2 separate regions of the Homo sapiens genome follow, and region 1 is linked to region 2. The links come from fine-mapping of genetic effects on gene expression. A gene starts in region 2. The other region holds a variant in brackets. All regions are shown on one strand. Distances are between the middles of the regions. Region 1 has its middle 13 kb from the start of SNAR-A4. Region 2 holds the start of VRK3 (VRK serine/threonine kinase 3).

Evidence for each region. PIP is the estimated chance that this variant, and not a neighbour inherited with it, causes the effect.
Region 1: its variant is the best candidate, but not a certain one, in a credible set for the expression of VRK3 in T cells (TOPMed, PIP 0.78).

Annotation. Positions count from the first base shown.
Region 1 is chr19:50,077,987-50,080,897 of GRCh38, forward strand. No RefSeq gene overlaps it. Among named protein-coding and RNA genes, the nearest start is that of SNAR-A4, 13 kb to the right of the region's middle. The variant T/A (reference allele first, on the strand shown) is at 1,510.
Region 2 is chr19:50,023,567-50,026,477 of GRCh38, forward strand. It overlaps VRK3 (VRK serine/threonine kinase 3), which reads right to left and starts at 1,806. Exons shown (of 15, transcript NM_016440.4): 1 at 1,701-1,806. ZNF473 (zinc finger protein 473) reads left to right here and starts at 2,439. Exons shown (of 5, transcript NM_015428.4): 1 at 2,439-2,556. RefSeq lists enhancers at 1,112-1,613, 1,663-1,742, 2,083-2,132, 2,543-2,592.

The DNA of each region.
Region 1 (2,911 bases), 54 kb after region 2:
TTGAGGCTGCAGTGAGCTGTGATGGCACTGCTGCCCTGCATCTCAAAAACATGATGCCGTGTGATACAGCCAGATACAAGGGTATATGCTGTAGGATTCCACTTTTGTGAAATTGTAGAAAGAAAACACTAATATGGGCGGGGCATGGTGGCTCACGCCTGTAATCCTAGCACTTTGGGAGGCTGAGGCAGGCGGATTACTTGAGATCAGGAGTTCAAAAGCAGCCTGGCACCTGTAATCCCAGCTACCTGGGAGGCTGAGTAGGAGAATCGGGAGGCGGAGGTTGCAGTGGGCCGATCATGCCACTGCACTCCAGCCTGGGCAACAGAGTGAGACTCCAACTCAAAAAAGAAAGAGAGAAAGAAAGAAAGAGAGAGAGAGAGAGAGAAGGAAGGAAGGAGAGAGAGACACAAAGAAAGAAAGAAAGAAAGAAAGAAAGAAAGAAAGAAAGAAAGAAAGAAAGAAAGAAAGAAAGGGGCCAGAGGCCAGGCACGGTGGCTCACCCTGTAATCCCAGCACTTTGGGAGGCCGAGGCAGGTGGATCACGAGGTCAGGAGTTCAAGACCAGCCTGGCCAACATGGTAAAACCCCATCTCTACTAAAAATACAAAAATTAACCGGGTGTGGTAGCGAGTGCCTGTAATCCCAGCTACTTGGAAGGCTGAGGCAGGAGAATGGCTTGAACCTGGGAGGCGGAGGTTGTAGTGAGCTGAGATCACACCACTGAACTCCAGCCTGGGTGACAGAGTAAAAGAAAAGAAAAGAAGAGAAGAGAAGAAAAGAGAAAAGAAAAGGCTAATACGCAGGGGCAGAAAATGGATTAGTGGTTGACTGGGGGCAGTGGCAGTGGTTATGGAGAGACTGATTACTAGTGGACACAGGAAAACTTTCCGGATGATGGAAGTGATCACACAACCGAATACATTTGTCAAAATTCATTGCGTTTAAAATTGGTTCATTTAAATTCTTGTACATTGTTGCAAAATACACATAACACAAACTTTACCATCTTAGCCAATTTTTTTTTTTTTTGAGACGGAGTCTCGCTGCAATGCCCAGGCTGGAGTGCAATGGCATGGTCTTGGCTCACTGCAACCTCTGCTTCCCCGGTTCAAGCGATTCTCCTGCCTCAGCTTCCAGAGTAGCTGAGATTACAGGCATGAGCCACTTTCCCAGGACTTAGCCAATTTTAAGTGTACAGTTGCATTGTTGTGCAATCATCACCCCTACTCATCTCCACTCTTTCCTCTTGTAGAATTGAAACTGTTCCCATCAAGCAACTCCCACTGCCTTCCCTTCCCAGCCCCTGGGAAGCACGTTCTACTCTCTGGGAAATTCCCTATGAATTTGACTACTCTAGGTACCTCATGTAAGTGGAATCATACAGCATCTGTCTTTTTGTGATGGGATTGTTTCACTTAGCATGAATGTCCTCAGGCTTCACCCATGTTGTAGCATGTGTTAGCATTTCCTTCCTTTTTAAGGTTAAATAATTTTCCATTATGGGCC[T/A]GGTGCAGTGGCTCACACCTGTAATCCCAGCACTTTGGGAGGAAGAGGCAGGCGGATCACGAGGTCAGGAAATCGAGACCATCCTGGTCAACATGGTGAAACCCCATCTCTACTAAACTACAAAAAATTAGCCGGGCGTGGTGGCAGGCGCCTGTAGTCCCAGCTACTTGGGAGGCTGAGGCAGGGGAATCACTTAAACCTGGGAGGCGGAGGTTGCAGTGAGCCAAGATCGCACCACTGCACTCTAGCCTGGGCGACAGAGCGAGACTCCATCTCAAAAAAAAAATCCATTATGTGTATATACCACATTTTGTCGAACCATTTATTTGTTGATGAACAGCTGGGTTGCCTCCTTTACCTTTTGGGTATTGTAAATAATGCTGCTATGAAAGTGGGTTGCAAATATCTTTTTGAAATATTGATCCATTTTCTTGTACACAAATTATATTTTGATAAAGTTGGCTAAAACTAATACTCCCACCTAACATAACTATCTCTAGTGCAACTGCAGAAGCTTTCACCCCTTCTGCAAAGGGAGGGATCCCAAAGCCACATCCAATCCTCAGACCAAGATTTCTGGATATTGGCTATTCCTTTCATCAAGGGCACATGGAGTCTCTCTTGATCCTGAAAATTAATGTTAAGGCTGGGCACGGTAGCTCACACCTGTAATCCCAGCACTTTGGGAGGCCAAGGCAAGTGGATCACCTGAGGTCAGGAGTTCAAGACCAGCCTGGCCAGCATGGTGAAACCCTGTCTCTACTAAAAGTACAAAAATTAGCCCGGCATGGTGGCACACACCTATAATCCCAGCTACTCGGGAGGCCGAGGCAGAAGAATCACTTGAACCTGGGAGGCGGAGGTTGCAGTCAGTGGAGATTGTGCCACTGCACTCCAGCCTGGTGACAGAGCAAGACTCCATCTAAAAAAAAAATTAATGTTAAATGAAATTGTAGCCCCCTCAGCAACCCACCCCTGTGTATAACAGTGGAGGAAAAACAAGAAAACAATCACAATTCTCACTTGAAAGGGGAGGGAAGAGAAACAAAATAGTATATGCCATTTGCTAGACTTGCCAAGACTCCTGCACTTTCAAGAGACAAAAAACCGGCCTTTTAAAAAATTATTGCCAAGCTCGGTGGCTCATGCCTGTAATTCCAGCACTTTGAGAGGCTAAGATTGGAGGATCACTAGAGCCCAGGAGTTCGAGACCCAGCCTTGGCAACATAGCAAGACTCCATCTCTTTAAAAAAAAAAAAAAAAAAATATATATATATATATATATATATATAGCCAAGTGCCATGGTGTGCACCTGTAGTCCCAGCTACTCAAGAGGCTAAGGTGGGAGGATCGCTTGAGCCCAGGAGGTCAAGGCTGCAGTGAGCCATGGTTGAGCCACTG
Region 2 (2,911 bases):
CTGACTTACTAGAATGTAAGCTTCATGATGGCGGGGACTTTTCCCTGCCTTGTTTGCCACAGTGTGCCCAGAGCCTCAAACAGGCCTGGCACAGAGCAAATGCTGGGTCTACGTCTGCTGAGTGAATAAATCATTGTCTCCTTTGCAAAAGAAAATGTGCCAAGAAGGTGGGTGGGGGGGGTCCCCAGCTGTGTCAGTACACATTCATCTCTCAGGCAAATCTAGACATCCAGCCAGAGACTCAAAGCTCAGGGCCGGAATTATCTAGCTGGATGGTCCCTAAAAAAGACGTGCCACTTAGAAGCAGATCAGTACAGGGGTTAAGAGGATAAACTTGGGAAATAATCTGCCTGGGTTTGGATCTTGCTTCTGCCATGTATTGCATGATGGACAGAGTTTTGCTATGTCACCCAGGTTGGAGAGCAGTGGCACGACCTCAGCTCACTTGCAACCTCCGCTTCCTGGGTTCAAGCGATTCTCCCTGCCTCAACCTCCCGAGTAGCTGGGATTACAGGCGCATGCCACCATGCCCGGCTAATTTTTTTATTTTTAGTAGAGATGGGGTTTCACCATGTTGGCCAGGCTGGTCTCGAACTCCTGAACCCAGGTGATCCGCCCACCTCGGTCTCCTAAAGTGCTGGGACTACAGGCGGGAGCCACCGTGCCCAGCCAAATTTTTTGGATTTTAGAACCTATTACATATTACAACACCGGCGAGATCCAGGGGCAACTCTCCATAAGTATATGATTTGCACAACAAAATCTTTAAAAATTCTAAATAGTCACACATCAGTTCAGAGTGGGTATTGCCAGCAAACAAGTTCAAAGCCAGGTGAGGTTGGCCTGCCAAGTAAGTTGCAAAACAGAGAAAAAGACCTTTCAGTTTTCAGAACGTTTTGGATTTTAAAGTTATAGATAAGGGACTGCAGACCTGTAAATATTCTTTAACATTTCTTTTTTAGTGTCTGGCATCCCCAACCACCCTGAGAATGTGAATTAGCTGGGCAGGATTTTTGTTTTAGACACTGCTATAATAACCTGGGCTTGAACAGTGCCTATTAGACTAGCACCGTTCAAACCCAGGTTATAGTAGTGTAATATCGGTTGCACGGAGCCTTCCATATAGTAAACGCTCAATAAAATTGGATGTGCTGAAGTCACCTATGCAATGGCCAGGTCAGGACTTGAAACCCTAAGACTCCAACCCTCAGGCCAGTCTTTATCTTAATTTATTTGACTTATTCAACAAATGTTTAGGGAACAGCTGCTATGCGTCAACTACTGTATAGTGTTCCTCCTAGAAAGTTCAGGAAACAGCACAGCAAAAAGGCTAAAAGTCAGACCCCACCTCAGCGCAGGTGGGGCGATTGCCTAGGCGACGACAGAGCCTCCCTTCGGCCGCACCTCCATAGAAACCACGGGATGACTTAGACGCCAAGTTTCACAGCGGAGGAGCTGTCGAACTTCCCACAAGTTCCGCCCATCTCCGCCTTAGCCATGCCCAACACGGAGCCCAAGGTGGCTTGGGAAGCTCAAGAGGAGGCCAGTGAACCCCGCGACCCGGAGCCGCTCTCATTCCGAACCCCGACAGCAGGGGCCTCCGCCTCCCACAAACGGTCGTGCTGACGTCACGGACGCCCCGGCCGAGCTGCGGCTAGGGGGTCGGGGGACGTCCCCTCGTTCGCCTCGCTTCCCCTCACCTCTGTACTTGGGGACTGGGGTGGGATTCTGGGCTTCTGCAGCCTGACCCTCGGATCCTCCGCAGTTACCCGGACTCACCTTCTCAGTTGCCCAGCGAAAACTTCCGCTGGGCGGAGAGCGCTGCGCGCGCATCCTGAATCTGAGGCGCCCGCGCAGGCGCCGCTGACTTCCTGACGGCCCCTGGGCTTCGCCTGCCTGGGAACTCCGTTTCCCAGATGCCTCCGCGGCAGGCCCGCCCTCTGATTCCAGACGGAATGGGGATTATTCCCTCATTGCTCATCCCCCTCCCCTCCGTTCTAGCCGCTTTGGAACGCCTTCTGGTTCTACTGCGCATGTGTCAGTGTCAGACCAATCGGAATGCACCGTGAGGTACCTCTCCACCAATCAGAGGTCACATTACCTAAACTTCTGCCTCAACTCCGCCCCTTACTTCCGCTTGTTTTCTCAGAAACCCGTCACAACGCGTTTCCATGGCAACCTACCGCTTGCTCTTCGGAAAAGGTTAACACTCCCTGACTTCTAGTAAAGGCAAGAAGCTAATTAGATGATTCTTTAACAAGGTAAAAATCTGGACTACAAACTGATGCCGCCTGGTCCTGATTCTCTTTCTACTCTACTCCCACAGTGCTAAGGCTGAAGAAGCAGGAGGAGATGGGAAGGCGAAAGAAGTCGCCCGCACAGCCCTCTGGGAAATAGAGTCCTGGCGCTGCCGCGGAGGATCCTGGGTGCAGCCGCTCAGAGAAGCTTCTCGCGCACAGGAAGTCGCTGCGAGGAGGCGCGTGTGCGGGGAGTTGAATCTCCCGCTCCCTTGAGGCTGGGGTTGCGTCTGTTGACGCGGCCGACTACAATCCCGAGGTACGGAGACGCTGGGGCTGAGGGACTTGCGGGCTCGGTCCTTCCTGAGAGGTGACGGAATGCAAGTGGGGGCGACTTCGGCAAAGGGTGCGTCGCCTTGGGCGGCGGTTGTCAGGGTGAAGGTGTGAACCGTCTTTCACAGTCTGTTATGAAAACCGCTCAAGGTCTGGGCACGGTAGATCACGCCTGTAATCCCAGCACTTTGGGAAGCCTTGGCGGGGGGGATCACTTACAGCCAGGAGTTCCTCGAACCCCCAGTCTCTACTAAAAATACAAAAATTAGTTGAGCGTGGTGGCGGGGGCCTGTAATCCCAGCTACTCAGGAGGCTGAGGCAGGAGAATCGCTTGAACCCAG